2 separate regions of the Homo sapiens genome follow, and region 1 is linked to region 2. The links come from fine-mapping of genetic effects on gene expression. A gene starts in region 2. The other region holds a variant in brackets. All regions are shown on one strand. Distances are between the middles of the regions.

Region 1 (8,000 bases), 94 kb before region 2:
AGTACACATGGCACATGCTCAGACCATGGGGGTAGAGGCTGGGAGGGAGCTGGACCAGCTGACCTTTTGACTTCTAGGAGGCTGGGCTCCTCATATGCGTAGATCCAACCAGTATGCTCAGGCCAGAAAGCTTGACCTTAAATGCTGGTTCTGCTATGTCCTTGTCATGCCTGACCAAGTCACCAAGCCGTTCTGAGCGCCTTGGCAGCTCCATCTATAAAATGGGGATATTTCAGAATGATGGTGTGTAGAGCCAGAGTCTAGCAAGCGCCCTAACATACAGCAGGTGCTCAATAAAAGCCATTTCTCCCTTTTCCTTCCTTCCTAAGGTAGTACTCAGGGCCAGCATCTACACCCTACAGTGCCCAAGTCAGAGACAAGATTCTGGGAGAAAACATGTGGACAGCCCAAATTCCAGGAAGCAGGCCCAGAGGAGCAGAGGAGACAGAAGGGGAGAAGGGGAGGTGACAGGTCCCTCAGAGGTGCCCCAAGTGGCTGTTCCTCGAAGCGTGGGACCCATGGCCCACATGTGCCAGGCCACCCCAGGGTCCTCAACTATTCCTGCTCCCCCGCCTAGCTGGGAAGCGTTCCCATCCTTCCTTTAAGCAGAGGCGCCTGCCTCTTGGTGCTGCAGCCGGAGTGCTGATAATAAAGGCACCTCTGTGTGTCTCTGGGGAAGTAGGGCTGGGGGGTGGTGACGAGGGGGGGCCCACAAAGCTCCCGCAGCTGTGTGTTTGCAAACAGGGGAGCTGAGCTGTGCAGAGGGGCTGAAAGCACTAATTGTCTTTAATTAAAGGAGGTTGGAGGCAGTGCAGGCTTTGACAAAAGAGATTTCCAGCCTGTTAGCAGCTTCAGCCTATGCAGGCGCTGGGCCGCCCAGGCGCGCCCTCGGCTTTGTCCCTGTGGGGCCTGGCCCTGTGGAGGGCACAGCTAACACCTGCCTGGCGGGGGTGGGAATAGGGGCGGCAGGAGCCAAGCACACGCAGTAGGACCTTACTGTGCTGAGAAGCTGGGATCCTGGGGCCTGGGAAGCCATCCTCATGGTGAACTCCTTTCCCATCCATCCATCCATCCATCCATCCATCCGTCCGTCCGTCCGTCCGTCCGTCCGTCCATCCATCCATCCACTCATTGACTCAGCAAGCACTGTTGAGCATTTGCTATGTGCCTAGCCAGTGCTCAGAGCCGGGGGCACAGAAATGTGGCAATTCCTGCGGTTCAAGGACTTGGTATTCTAAGAGGTACAGTGAGCACAGACTCTGGAACCTGCTGGCTTGAATCCTGGCTCTGCCACTTATTAGCTGTATAAACTTGGGCAAGTTACATCACTTCTGTGCACCTCAGTTTTTCCACCTGTAAAAGGGGGGTGATTACTGAGTTATAAAGTGTTTGCCCTGTGCACTTTACAAACATCAATGGCTATTATTCATTCTTTCATTTATCCAACTTTGTACCTGGCTGGAGTCTCTAGCATTCCATTGATGGGAAGAACCGTGGTCTAGGAGGCTGGTTGGGTTCCAGTCCCAGCTCTGCCAGTCACTTGCTATGTGACTTCCCAGCCTCAGTTTCCCCACCTGCACAATTAGGGCTGGACAGGATGGAGTGTGAGGGAGGGCTCTGCGGGCATGGATGGTCTCAGCTCCCTCCAGAGTCCTGGGAATGGAGGCTCCCTTGCTGGGCTCCTGCCCCCTGCTGCATACAAATGGGCTCGGCCTCCCACCCCAGGCGGCTGCTTTAGCTCATTCCATTCTTTTGTCTTCTCTTTCACCAGGCTCACCCTCAGACACATCTGCAGCCCCCCTGGCAGGCACATATGCGCTAGTGAGCTCCCTCTCCCTCCCAATCTCTCTCTCTCTCTCATACACACATGTACATGCACCTGCCTGATTCTCACCCTCACCCCCATTCCCACCCAAAAGAATCACAGCCTTTGCACCCCCACCCGCTCCTTGCTGACCCTGGGTCCAGGATGGGTGGGAGGTGGCTGCTCACAGTCTCTGATCCCCTCCAGCCCAGCTGTCTGGACTGGGTGGTTGTAGAGAGGTGGGGAGAGGGGCAGAGGGTGAGAGCATCCTGTGCCAGAGTCCTCAGGCAGTGGGAGGGAGGTCAGCTCCTGAAAGGGAGGGCCTGAGTCAGGCCACAGGGGAGTGGCAGGTCTGGAATGTTCACCTTGGGGAGTACCACAGGAGGTCAGGAGACATTTATCTCAGCCCACTCTGGGCTGGCAGCCCCTCGTTTAATTTATTCAAGGGCCTGGGGGGGAAACTGAGGCTGAGAGAGACTGCGTACGGCTCAGAGACACACAAATGGGGTCACCTCGAACCAGGACACACTTCTGTCCCTTTAGAATCCATTTTCTGAAGTCCTTCAGAATCAACAGGCCAGGCCCCCTGTGGGACATGGATTTGACAGATGTCTGGTGTGGACTCCGGGTGCATGGCTCATCCCGTACCTGCAGGATGCCAGCCCTGGGAGGTGGTGGGGGCAAGGAGAGGGGGCAAGGTGTGGCCCTGGTATGTAGGTACCTGTGCCCCTTGCTAGAGGGGGAGGTTGGGGGGCATGTCCTGACCCCAATGTGTCTGGGTTGAGGAGGGAGGATTCACTCTCTAGCCCACAATTTGCCCAGGGTCCCTGGCATGTCCAGGCACAGGCAAGTGGTCCCCTTAGAGAAGGAAATGGGGAGGGAGCTAGAGAGACGGGGAGAGAGACAAGTGGGGAGGCAGGGGAGGGAGAGAGAGAAACAGAGAGGAGGGGAGATGGAGAGACTAAGACAAGGAAAAGGAAGACAAGAGGACACTGAAGGAGCAGGGGACAGAGGCGGGGGCAAAGAGACAAGGGGAGGAAGGAGAGAAGAGGCAGGTGGGAGGGAAGAGTCAAGTTCAGAGAGCTGGGAGGGGCGGGAAGGGTGTGGGATGGGAAAGAGCTGGGCCAGTGGTGGCCCAGAGAAGCCTGACCTGGAAGGGGCCCAACTGAGCAGGGCAGGGTGGGGCGGGGAGGTTCCTAGAGGGGCTAAGGAGGGTGGCTGAGGACTGTGAGTGAGTCTGCATGACTGTGAGAATGCACTTCCAAGTGTGAGTGGGTGTGAGCGTGCGCTTTCAGGCCCAGGCAGACTGGGGTGTCTCGTCTTGATCTCTTGGCTTCACACACCCTCTGCATTTTATATTCATGAGAACTGAGCTGAAAGATTAATTCATATTTAATACAGCCTTCGCTGGCAGGATGGGGGGTGGTGCAGATTTTTTCCTTAAAGGCACTAGGTAAGGAAGAATTGATTGATTGATTGATTGGTTTTCTCCATCCATGCATCCATCCCCCACCCACTAAGCACCTCCTGTGTGGCAGGCACAGTGCTGGGCAGGAGGACCAAACCAGCCAACCCAATAAGCTCATTCCTACACTGGCCGCGGCAGCCTGGGATGGTGGGAAAGGTCTAATGCGGTCCTGAGTGTAAAAGGCAGTTCCATTAATGTGCTCTGTGAGACCGCACAAGCCCTTCTGCCTCTTGGAACCTGTTTTCTCACTTGTAAGACGGGGTGGGCAACTCCTGCTCCCAGGGATTGGTGAAGATGTGTATGGAATGTGCCTAGCACCACCACAGAAATTCCAGATCTCTAAGGTTGGCTTGTGGCACTGTGGCCTCCTAACCACTATCTCTAAACACTTTTTTTTTTTCTCTTGAGACAGGGTCTCACTCTGTTGCCCAGGCTGGAGTGCACTGGTGCAATCACAGCTCACTGCAGCCTAGAACCCCTAGGCTCAAGTGATCTTCCCACCTCAGCCTCCCTAGTAGCTGGAACCACAAACATGCATCGTCACACCCCAGCTAATTTATATATATATATATATACACACACACACACATATACATATATATACACATATACATATATATACACACATATATATACATATATACACACATATATATACACATATATATATATACACATATATATACACATATATATATATATTATTTTTTTTTGAGACAGGGTCTCACTCTATTGCCCAGGTTAGAGTGCAGTGGTGAGATCATGGCTCACGGCAGCTTGGACCTCCTGGCCCAAGTGATCCTCCCACCTCAGCCTCCCTAGTAGCTGGGACTACAAGTGCGTACCACCACACCTGGCTAATTTTTAATTTTTTTGTAGAGATGGGGTTTCACCATGTTGCCCAGGCTAGTCTTGAACCCCTGGGCTCAAGTGATCCTCCAGCTTCAGCCTCCCAAAGTGCTGAGATTACAGGTGTGTGCCACTGTGCCCGGCCTAACCACGATTCTTACAGAAGATCCTGAACATCCAGTGGCTGCCAACTCCACAGCGGCTGCAGCTGTGCAGCCTCACTAGGGCAGCGGGTGGGAGGTGGGTCAGTCCTGCCCGGCCCAGGCAGCTATGGAATGAGCACAAAGATTTGAGGGACAGGAGATGCCCTTCCCCTAGAAGCCCCACAACTACCCTGCCTCTCAGGTTAGGATAGCCAGAGCCTCCTCAGGCTATTTCTTGCTTGTCCTCCAGGTCTCTGTGCTGGTGGCCCTTCCTCTAGAAAGGCCTCTGGGACTCCCAGGCTCAGGGTGGTCCCATCCCCACATCCTAGTCCTAGTCTCCCCAGTGGGTCCCCATAGTCCTTACTGCTCCATGCACACACTCCACCCTCTCTGTGCACCAGGGGCTCCTTGTCTCTGTCCACTGTGGGCTCCTGGGGGCAGAGGCCATGGCAGATCCCACTGTGTTCTGGCCCAGCACAAGGCCTGACACATTTCTAGAGGGGCAGGGGCATTTGCTGGTCCGTGAGCTGAGAGTCAGACCATATTCTACCTGATACTGCTTCCCCTGAGGGCCTGAAATCCAC[C/T]TCCTCAGATGCCATATCCCTCTGTGGGGAAGGGCATCAGGGACTCTCATCACTCAGGAGGTCCAGGGAGTTGGGGGTGGGGCTGGGTGGTGCGGGTGGACAGGGGGATGAGACATCTCTGCTACGGACTACCCTTGTGTCCTCGAGCCAGACCTTTCTCCTCTCGGAGCCTCAGTTTCCACAGCTGTAAACCAGAAGGGTAACTTTCATGGTGCTGGCTGGGGAAGGGCATAGTCTTTGGCCTTAGACTGGTGGCCCTGCCAAGGGGTGGCTGGTGGTGGCAGATTCTCTAGACACATCTCTCAAAGCCTGCCACCTCCCCATTCTTAGGGTCCCCACCTCCATCATACATAAAGTGTTTTGCAAATGAAGAGTCAATACCCACCCCTGCAATCCAATCAATCCCCCAAAGCCCCTCCCAGGTGGAAATCCTTCTGGTGCCCACTCCACTGTAGACACAGCTGAGCTTGGCTGCCAGCTCTACCCTCCAACCCTCAAATGGGGAACCAAATAACCCAACTGGGCCATCATTTCCCCCATGGGCCTCCTATAGGCCAGGCTAGTCTGCCCCCTAGCCCCCTTCTCTTCTCTTCCCCAAGCTGGATTCAACACTGGGCGGGCCCCCTCCTCCACTCTCTGCCTGGACGTGACATTCACCAGCATCACTTCTGGTCCCATCTGCGAGCACCCCACCCCCCAGCAGCTAATCCCCACAAAGCCCTGCGCAGGGCCCAGCATGACAAGCAGGCCCCGCGCTGCTTGCAGCTTGGCTGAGCGTGCTCGGAGGGGCTGAGGCGGGATTCGGCGCGGCTGTCACTCTCCCTGTCCGCTCCTCTAATTGGATTCCCAACACGCAGAGGTCAGCAGAAACGCTGGGTAGAGGAGAATCAAAGGGAAGGGGCGTCTGGGAGATAAAGAGAGGCATTCTTCCTGGGCCACAAAGACTGCAGCACGAGGGGGCGGGAGGGGACCCCACGAGGGGCTGCCCATCTGGAGGGGGAAGGGGATGGGATGGGAGAGCCCAAGGCAAGTGACAGAGGCTGAGGGCCTATTTCCTCTAGGCTGGAGTTTCCCTATGCTGCACCTCTGCCCACATGGTGCCTTGGGCCTGTAGGCCATCCCCTCGTGTGGGGTCTGGGCATCCTCTAAGGCCTGGCCTCTCACTCCTGCTTGCTGGAGGAAGCGTTCTTGGAATGCGGTGGGAAGGTTCCGGAGTCCACTGGACCTGGGTCCCAATCCTGGCTTGCCACCTGCTCTCGGTGAAGTTCGACAAAGCCCTTGCAGTTCTCTGGGGCTCGGTTTCCCCTCTGTGGAAGGCGGATAACACCAGCTGCCACCCAGGGCGGTGGCTGGGATAAAAATGAAGGGATGTCAGCAAAATGCTTGGAGCAGAGGGCCCACAGGAAGGGGGGCATTCATGGGTGTCCCTTCCCAAAGCTCCTCTGCTGGCCTGGCGAGGACAGACACAAGCCTCTCTCCCCAGATGAAAGTGCTTCGTAAACGTAACAGCCGGGACAGATGAGAGAGAACCTCCAGCCTTGGCAGGGGCTTCACCACTCACATCTTCACCACCACCCTGTGCCTATCGGGCAGAGGAGGAACCCGAGGCTCAGGAAATGACGGGAAATGGCCAAGGCCATACAGCTAGAAAGCAGCAGAGTCTGGCCAGGGAGCCTGCCCCCTGTACCCCTGCAGGGCTGCTGTGCCCACCTGAGCACGACAAGCAGGTCCTGTGGGTATATGTGTGTGTGCAGGCACAACCGGTGGAGGAGATGGGCGGGCCAGGGATGGAGCGTTGCGCAAAACAGGCCTGGTTTGCTTTAAGAACACTGGAACCACTGATTTTGCTTCATGAAAGAGGCATGAATAGGACCTCAAAGGGAATTTCTAAGAGACAGAAAATCAATGGCCCTGACATATCTTGGTCCCCAGAAAGAGAGAGAGAGTGTGTGTGTGTGTGTGTGTGTGTGTCACATACACACGCACACACTCCACAAATTGATCCAGCCATGTGCGTGCACACACACACACACACACACATATACTCACACAGATAGGGCTCACATATGCTAACAAGTACCCATTTTCACGTACATCTGGCTTGATAAAATATACAGATGTACACATGAATCTGAATACTCTGGCTGATTTCCCTGTGAGTGGGTGGGCACCCATGCAAACACACACCTGCATGACCCAGTGAGCGTACTCAACAGCAGTGGCGTGTACACACAGATGGGGACCTCCCTCCACGGCTGCACCCACACATTCTTAGGTGTGTGCTTTGATCCAGCACACTCATGAGTGTGCTCCTCCCTGCACACATATGCTGGGGCAGGTCAGGCAGACACAGGAACACACCAATACAGGGAGAGGAATGGCTCCCAGCAGGCTCCAGTGTCACCCACACAGGCAAGCTCTGTGCGCAGCCCGCCCCTGAAATGTACGTACATGCCCATAGATCCGAGACGTTCCAACAGCATGTGCAGAGGCTGGCTCAGTGGGTACGCTAGTGCACGTATGGGCACACAAACAACTCCCAGCAGGCCCAGCGCACACGCATGCGTACAGGGACGCTCTGTGCTGACCCAGCACATGCGTGCACATCCCTCCCGGGTCTCCGGGGAGCTCCCACAGACAGACAGCTCTGACAGCAGGGTGTGGGGGAGGGCAGCTCAGGGCCAGGGTTGCCAGGGATACGGATGTGGGGCTCTCAAAGCTGCATGGCCTGCCCAGGCAGCACAGACACGCCAGTGACCACTCTTAGGTCTTTAAAATGTTGCTAATCAGATGGCAATGCCTTTAAGGGAGGGAACTGGGAACTTGAGGCTGGTTTCCTAGAAGGAGCCAGTATAACCCTGACAGGTCCCAGGTCAGGCCTGCAAAGACCCCAGGGCGGAATCTTTTCTCTCTAAGGCTGCCATGAGGCTCTGGGCCCAAAATTTGCTGGGGACACAGCGACAGACATAGCTCTGCATGGCCCCTAAGCCTCACCCAGGTCATACCTCCTGCTCCACCAAACGACCTGTGTTCAGTGACAACCACTTACTTGCTGTGTGGACTGGAGCAAGTCACTTGGCTTCTCTGAACCCCAGTTCCCTCATCTGCAAAAGGGGATGGTCATGACTTCGAGCATTTAGATCGCAGGGGCC
Region 2 (8,411 bases):
CAGTTTGGGGGAGATGCTAAGCTTACCGTCCTAACCTAGAAACCCCCCGTATACACACACACTCTCCTCTCCCCCATTCCGAAGGCTGGAGCTGGGGATTTCCTGGGGACTTAACCGGCAGGACAGCCCTTTACGGGCTGAGGAGACAAGGAAGGAGGAAGGGAAGGAAGTGGTAGCCATGTGGCTCTGGGTTCTGGGAGCCAGAGGGGCCACCCTCCTACTGCTCCACGGCCCAGTCCTGTCTCCACAGACTGTGTCACCCTCAGGAGGACCCTGGTGTCTCCCAAATGTGCACAGGCAGCACCGCCCCCCAAATGTGCACAGGCAGCACCGTCCATCCCTGGCTTTGAAGGGGGACTTCTCCCACCCATCATCTGGTCTGATCCTCACAAACACCCCAGGAGACAGGCAGGACAGGCGCTGTCATCACTCTCACTAGACGGGGGAGGAAAACGAGGCTCAAAGAGGGGAAGTAGGGCGTAGACGATGGACTCTACAAGATATTTAGCCAGGCCATTTTACACCCAGAGAAACTGAGGCCCCCACAGGGAAGGGACCTGGCCCAGGGTCCCATAGTAAATGAGAAGCAGGCCCTCTGACCTCCACCTCACACCATCTCCCCATCCATTCGGCCAGCTCCTTATTAACCACTGATGGACTAACTTCCTAGTGTCCAGGGGGCAAACGGAACAAGAGCCTGAGGCAAGCATTGGGGTGCCTGCTGCAGCCCTCCTCCCACCCTGCTGTGGCTTCCCTTCCCCACCCTGCCCCCAAGTGGCAGTCCAAGTAGCCATACCCTCCTGTGACGTCAGCGCCCACCAGCCCTGTGTCCAGGGCCAGGGTCCAGGCTGGCCACAGCCCACCAGATTCCAACCAGCCTCTGCCAGGGCGATGGCTGGACAGATGTGGCCCTTCCATCTACCCCAGAGTAATTAAAAACACACCCAGGCCTCTTCCAACGAGAGAGGGGCCAATTTTCTTCCCCTCCAGCACCGCTGACTGCAACCTAAATAGCAATATTTATGCCAAGCTCCCCATAATACTGTAAACATCCCAATGTATAGCGGGCCAACGCATGAGTCATTTCCCCAAAGCCAGAGTTAATAAGTGGTACCTCAGCCATATTCCACAGAGCTCCCGCCAGCAGCCAGGCCCCAGGGCTGCCCTCCACACCCAGGGCCCGTGGCACCCTAGGTGCCCCAGTGGCCCCACTCCGGGAAACCGCAGTCAGCCGCCAAATCCCCCAGGAGCCGAAGGACAGCTGCCTCAGTGCCAGAAACTGTGGCTGCCATCCAGGGACACCCCCCACCCCCTGACTGCGGTCACTAAAGTGCTCATTACCGAAAGAGAAACTGAAGTTGTAGCACAGGGTCCCCCACGACGCCTTTCCCAGAGGCCGCAGCCCCCACGTCTGGTCTGATATGCGTTTTTTCTTAGGCTGCAAGAAGGGAAGGGGCGCCCCACAACCCTAAAGTGGCCTGAGAGGTGCACACAGACATCATCCCTAAGCCCAAGGGAGCAGAACCCTGGAAGGGCTCACGCAGTTTAGGGGCAACAAAACCCAGCTAAGTGAGTGCTGGTTTCAAAGAAAGACCACAGACCTGGGTTCTATTTTTGTCACCCAACGGCCCTGGGTGAGACATCGGACTTTTCAGAACCTCGGTTTCCCTATCTGTTCAAGAGAAGTAGGAATCATACCTACCTGTCTTCCCCGGAAGGTGTATTTTGAGGGATCCAACACGCTGGTGGGCGGGAAAGCACTTTGTAAAGCTTAAAGTACCTTGTCAACTGTGCAGCACGTTGTAAACCACAGAGAGCTGCGTATAGTGCGAAGTACTTCATAAACTGTAAAGTGGTTTGAAAACTGTAAAGTGCAGTACACGTGAGAACCATTATTCACGTTCGCTTCTTGCCCTGCAAGCTCGGCCATTCCTGGTGGACACACCCAGACCGCACTAACTTTCCCTCCAGAGCAAGCTGGCTCGGGAGACCTAGCAACTACCCTTGCCCCCCTGGGGGTCGAGTGGTACCAATACACGAGGCCACGGGGAGAGGGCCCGCGACCCTGGCCAAGGCCAACACATGGCAAGAGCATCTGGTCCGGCCCCGGCGGCAGCTGGAGAGTTCCCGGGGCTCCAGCCGCCACGCTGAGCGCCGCGGCCGCGGGGCGGTGGCCGGCGGGGGTGCCCGGAGACCTTGCGCGGCGGAGAGATGCCCACAGACCCATCCCCCGCGCAGTCCTCTCGGGGAGGGGACCCCATTGTACGCCGCGGGCGATGGGCAGGCACCGACGCGGGGGCTGGCGCGCTCCCTTCCACTCTGCCAGTCCCTGCTCTCCGGGGCGCCGGGCCCCATCTCGGGGGCGCGGGCCGGGAGCCCCCACCCCGGCCGGCCGCGGTGCCTCCCTCCCTCTGCTCCCTGCCAAACTTTCCAGCCCCGACCGAGCGCCGGCGCCCCCCCCGCCCCCCGCCACGGCCGGGCCCGCGCCCCTCCACCCTGTGCGGAGCAAGACCAGGCCGGCGCGAGGCGGCTGCCCGAGCCGGGGGCGGCGAGCGCGCGTGGGCAGCCCCCAGCCCTGGGCGGCGCTCGCCGGGCTGGCTACAAAGCCTCGGCAAGATGGTCCCTTCGCCTCCTCCTGGCACAGTCAATCAGCGCCCGCCGCTCCCCGGGCGCCCGCGGGGCCCGCTCCTCCCGGCGCGGCCGGACACACCTCCCCGCGGCCACCTGCGCCCGGCGCCGGCCCCCGGGCAAACTTTGCGGGCCGCGGAGCGGAGGTGGGCGCCGGCGGCCGCCCGTGCCCGGCCGCTCCCCGCCCCCATCGCCCGCCCGCCCGCCCGCTCGCTCACCTTCCACGGCGGCGAGCAGCGGCAGCAGCAGCAGCGCGGCCCCCAGCCTCCGCAGAGCCATGGCTGCGCTTCCCGGGGCCTCGGGCCGCGGCGCCGCGGGGCCCGGACGGCCCGGGCGGGAGCGCGCGCCCCGGGCTCGGGGGGCCAGGGGGGGCGGCAAGGCGCGGCGCACACACAGCCGCCGCCACCGCGCAGCCAGCAGAATGAGCCATCCAGCCCGGGCAGAACGGGGACCCGGGCTCCGCCAGCGCTGGGCACGGCCCACCTGAGCCGCGGGCGCGGGGGGAGCCTCGCCAGGCCACCGCCCCCCGCGCGCGTCCCGGCCCCCGGCGGCCGCGCGCCGCCGCGAGCCCGGGTCCCCACACCGCGCCCGTAGGGTCACCCGGGGGCAGCGCGGGCGCTGGAGCGCGGCGACCCCGCGTGCCCGGGCCACTGAGACCCCGGGCTCCCCCCGCGCAGCAGTGGTCTCTCCCGGCGCTGTGGCTCCTCCAGATAAAGCAGCGATTTCAGCCCAAATGTTTCTCAATTTTTATTGAATGCTGCAAAGCCGGAGAGCGTCTGGCGCGGCTGACAGGGGCAGGGAGAGCGGACGGAGGGGAGGGCGGGGGAAGGGGCTTCCCAAAGCGGGGGCCGGCACTACCTGTCAGGGCAGGGAGTCCCACCCCCTCGCCTCAGCCCTGCCACCCGGGTCCCTGCGGCTTCGAAAGGGACCGAACTGCAATGAATGGAAAAAAAAAAAAAAGGGTGTGTGTGGGGGGGTGGCATCTGGGAACAAAACAGGCGGCTTTCCCAGGCACCGGGGCTGGGCCGGGGCCTCCGAGTGGGAGACTGGGCCTTGGCGCTACCCGAGGGCCTGGGGTGGGGCTGGGGGGAGGGTGGTCACTCGGCACTGGTGGGCTGGGCCCTTGCAGGCAGACCCCAGGCCTCCCCTCCCTGCCCCGTTGTTCTGAGCTGGCCCGCGAGCCCCTCACTGCAGACTCGTCTATGTCTGTATTAGATTTCTCCTTCTCTGTTGATCTTGCTCCCAGTGCAGTTTGGGGATGGGGTGAAGGAAGTCCATGGGTGAATCTGGGGAAAGCCCCAGCCACCCCCACGCTGTGGAATGGACCTGTCTGTGCAGCCGTGGTTTTGTGCATGGCCGTCCCTTCAGGGAGAACACAACCCTAGCCCCAACCCTGTGGGCCCTGCCCTGCTCTGACAGCCTTCATCACCATCATCATTAACAGACTTTACTGAAGTCTGGATGGTGGGCGGCTGCAGGGGGCCTGCGGCAATCACCCAGGCTGAACCCCTGGCAGTTGGGAGCCCACTCCTGACTGAGGAGACTTCATCAGGAGCTCGGAACTCTGTGGAGTGAGTGGAGGAGCCCAGTGCAGGAGCAGGTGGTTTAAGTCGAAGGCAGTTTAAGTCTATGCTACCCACATCTCCTGTGTCCCTTTGTCCCACATACTATCAAAATGTCCCAGCAATCCCTCCCCTTCAGTCCATACCAAGAAAATGGGGTACCACAGGCTTTGGGAATCCATCTAAGGTTTGGAAAGTTGGGTCGTCTCTTGAAGCTCCAAGAGTCCAGTTGAAATGGGTGTCATCCTGGAAGGCCACCAGGAGGAGGCAGCCTGGGAGGGAGACAGAACAGGAGTGAGCAGGGAGAGAAGAGAAACAGGAGATTTCCCCCTATTAAGCCTACAGACCCCTCACCAGGGTCAAGAGCCAGTGGGGTGGGGCTGGCAGAGCCACTACCGTTCCTATTTGAGTGAGCAGGGAGAGAGGAGAAACGAAGATTCCCCCTTTTAAGTCTACAGACCCCTCACCAGGGTCAAGATCCACTGGGGTGGGGCTAGCCTTTATTTTCAGTTCTTGCCTGTCAGACCTTCCAGGAGACCCAGGGTTTGAGGGACCCCAAGCTTGGCCCATCTTGAGGCAATCCTCCCTCTCCTGGACAGAGCAGCTCTAAGCTCTGGCCCCCTCCAGTGCATCCAGGTGCTAGACACTTCCAAATTCAAGAAGTCATTATTGAGCACCTATTATGTACTGTGCAGATTCAGCTTTTTTGCTTTGTTTCTATTTCCTGGGACCCTTGACTCCACCTACCCAGGGCCAGTGGTTACTTCCTTTTTGTCTCAAAATAGGAAGACCAGTGACTCTGCTTTATTGAGGACATGGTACCAGGCACTAGGCTGGGCTTTGTTTATTTCTTGTCCCCCTTAATCTTTCCTACTCTGTGCACCAGGTGCTGATCTTTTCACATGATGAAACTGAGGACCAGATAAGTAATTTGTCCAAAGTCACATGGCAAATTGGGCTAGGATTCAACCCCATGTCCGTCCGACCCCAGTGCTGACCTCCTTGTACCTTTCACAGAAGCACAGAGCTCAGGGCTCTTCCCACAGGCTATTTCACAGATAAGGAAACTGAGGCCTAAAAAGGAAAGTGACTCACCCAACGTTATCTGATGAAATAGACATCTATCCAGGGCCTTTACCTGGCAAAAATAGAAAATTACTGATCATAATTAAGTTCCCCTTCTCTCACATCCTCTTCTCTCTAAACAGTATTTTATTCCCCATTTGGGGTGGCTGGGTTCTGCAGTCTGGCCAGGCTCTCCTCCCTGATTTCTTGGCAACCGCCTTTAGCTGTGCTTTTGTCCCAGCTGTGCACTCCACCTGGTTGCCTTCTTGGCTCTAAAGACTTGGATTCAGCCTCACCCCAGCCCCCACCAAGAGCTTAATTGACATTCGCCTCACCCCTCTCTGACTGACCTATTTGCCTATTATCTGTTCCCTGAAAGATAATCAGCCCCACATGGTCCATTGCTGGTTTCTCTGATGGATTGTTTCTGATTTGCACGTTATCTCTACAACTCCAGCCGACTGTGAGCTCCATGAGGGCAGTGCCTGGATGCAAAACTATACTGTACACTGCCAGGGCAGGAGGCCCCAGGGAGCATCTGACCCAATCCCCTCCTCAGCAGAGGAGGAGGCGGTTTAAGCTTCATTTGTCTAATGACAACAGCTACTCGAATTTGCAATCACGCTTTAACAGTTTACAAAGCAGCGTTCACACCCATCAACTCGACTCATGCTAATTCAACCAGCCTATCCTGCGAGCCAGCCCGGCAGCCAGGGAACGCCATTTTTCAGACGGGGAAATTGGGGCCCAAAGAGGGGCCACTTGCCCAAAGACATGTGGAAGGTTTGGGGTTTTTTGTTTGTTTTTGGTGCAGCTGGAGTGAGGCTTCAGTGACCTGTCTTGTCTAGGTCTCTTTCAATCAGAGTTGATTGACAAACATTAGTTGGGCACCTCCTGCATACCAGGCACTGAGGAGGCAGGGACGCAGCTGTGGACCTGCCAGACAAGGCCCTGCTCTCTGGGAGCCTATATTCTGCTGCAGAGAGACCTATATAGGGACAAGCTAATAACGATAATGGTAAGTGCGAGAAAGATAATGACCAGGGTGATGGGGCAGTGATTGACGGAGGGCAGGGGGCTGCTCTGGCCAGGGGAATCAGGGAAGGCCTCTTAGGCAACATGGCAGCTAAAAGCTGGACAGCGAGGAGTCTACCATGCCAACATGTGGGAAGAGAGCTCCAGGTGGAAGAAACTGCAGAGGCAAAGGCCCTGAGGTGGGAACACACTGGGTACCCTCTGGGAATAGGAGCTGAAGTACGGCAATCAACTGGAGCGTGGAGGAGGTTACATCAGGGAGGGAGAATATGGATTGTAGTTTAACCTCAATGGGGGAGTCATGGAGGATTATAAGTTGAGACTGGATAGATTGGAGGTAGAGGAAATAGCATGAACTTGGCTGAGCAGGGCCTGGGGGACCCCATGTGTTAACCCATGCCACCATCCTCCCGGTCTGTGGGGCTGGGCTGGCCTCTAGAGCCCCTAGATGGAGACACCAGGGGCTCTCTTAACTTGCTTCCCTTAACTTGACTCCCTTAACTCCCTAGCCCTCCCTTAACTTACTGTGTGACCTTGGGCAGGGTACTCACCGTCTCTGGGCCCCACTTGCCACAAATGCCAAATGAGGGCATTGGCCAAGGTGGTTTCTCTGAGGCCACTTTCAGCCCTCTCTTTGTCGTGGATTCAGTGGGGGCAACAGGACCTTGGTGAGGATCTCAGCCATACCAGAGGATGCCAATGAGCTCTAGGCTCCCTTTGCTTTCCCTGAGGCTCCTTCTTCCTGAGGGGAAAGGTAGTGGGGCTCTTGAAGGGGGGAAACATGTTACACTGAGTGGCAGAGCCCAGAGAAAACATAGAATAGACATCCCCTCTCGGTGTACCCAAGTCTCTGACTCCCATCCCAGTGGCTTTGCTGACTGATGCAGGATTGATGGGGTCACATGGCCATTTGTGGGTCAAACCATCCCTACAGCCAGTGCCAGGCCAGGGGGAATTTCTTTTTTTTTACTATATATATTTTTTATTATGCTTTAAGTTCTAGGATACATGTGCACAACGTGCAGGTTTGTTACATATGTATACATGTGCCATGCTGGTGTGCTGCACCCATTAACTCGTCATTTACATTAGGTATTTCTCCTAATGCTATCCCTCCCCACTGCCCCCACCCCACAACAGGCCCTGACGTGTGATGTTCCCCACCTGTGTCCAAGTGTTCTCATTGTTCCATTCCCACCTATGAGTGAGAACATGCGGTGTTTGGTTTTCTGCCCTTGTGATAGTTTGCTCAGAATGATGGTTTCCAGCTTCATCCATGGCCCTATAAAGGACATGAACTCATCCTTTTTTAAGGCTGCATAGTATTCCATGGTGTTTATGTGCCACATTTTCTTAATCCAGTCTATCATTGATGGACATTTGGGTTGGTTCCAAGTCTTTGCTATTGTGAATAGGGCCTCAATAAACATATGTGTGCATGTGTCTTTATAGCAGCACGATTTATAATCCTTTGGGTATATACCCAGTAATGGGATCGCTGGGTCAAATGGTATTTCTAGTTCTAGATCCTTGAGGAATCGCCACACTGTCTTCCACAATGGTTGAACTAGTTTTCAGTCCCACCAACGGTGTAAAAGTGTTCCTATTTCTCCACATCCTCTCCAGCATCTGTTGTTTCCTGACTTTTTAATGATCACCATTCTAACTGGTATAGATGGTATCTCATTGTGGTTTTGATTTGCATTTCTCTGATGGCCAGTGATGATGAGCATTTTTTCCTGTGTCTATTGGCTGCATAAATGTACAGAGACATGGCTCAAATTCTAGTTCTGTCACCAGTTGGCTGTGTGACCTCAGACAGGGCTCTTCCCCTTTCTGGGCCTGAGTTGAGAGCCCCAGATCTACCCTCATGAAGCTCATGAACCAGCACTGTCCAATAGAAATATGATCTAAGCCCCACATATAATTAAACCATTTCTAGTAGGCATATTTAAAAAAAAGAAAAAGAAATAGATGGAGTTAATTTTAATATATTTATTAACCCAATATATCCAAAATATTATCATTTCAGCATGTAATGAATGAACCATTTTACATTCTTTTTTCACACGAAGCCTTTGCAATGTAGCATGCATTTTATATTTCAGCATAGCTCAACTT

Alleles and levels. Positions count from the first base shown, and alleles are read on the strand shown. Sizes are in standard deviations (SD) of each study's normalised expression.
For the expression in subcutaneous fat of the gene that starts at base 3,051 in region 2, allele T in region 1 goes with a lower level than allele C (small effect, 0.18 SD a copy in GTEx).

What was found. PIP is the estimated chance that this variant, and not a neighbour inherited with it, causes the effect.
Region 1: its variant is fine-mapped to the expression of EPHB2 in subcutaneous fat (GTEx, PIP above 0.99).

The regions. Positions count from the first base shown.
Region 1 is chr1:22,799,591-22,807,590 of GRCh38, reverse strand. All of the region lies in intron 3 of EPHB2 (EPH receptor B2), which reads right to left. Among named protein-coding and RNA genes, the nearest start is that of MIR4253, 60 kb to the left of the region's middle. The variant C/T (reference allele first, on the strand shown) is at 4,849.
Region 2 is chr1:22,705,479-22,713,889 of GRCh38, reverse strand. It overlaps EPHB2 (EPH receptor B2), which reads right to left and starts at 3,051. Exons shown (of 16, transcript NM_017449.5): 1 at 2,847-3,051. The coding sequence starts at 2,907. RefSeq lists an enhancer at 1,758-1,857 and a silencer at 4,079-4,364.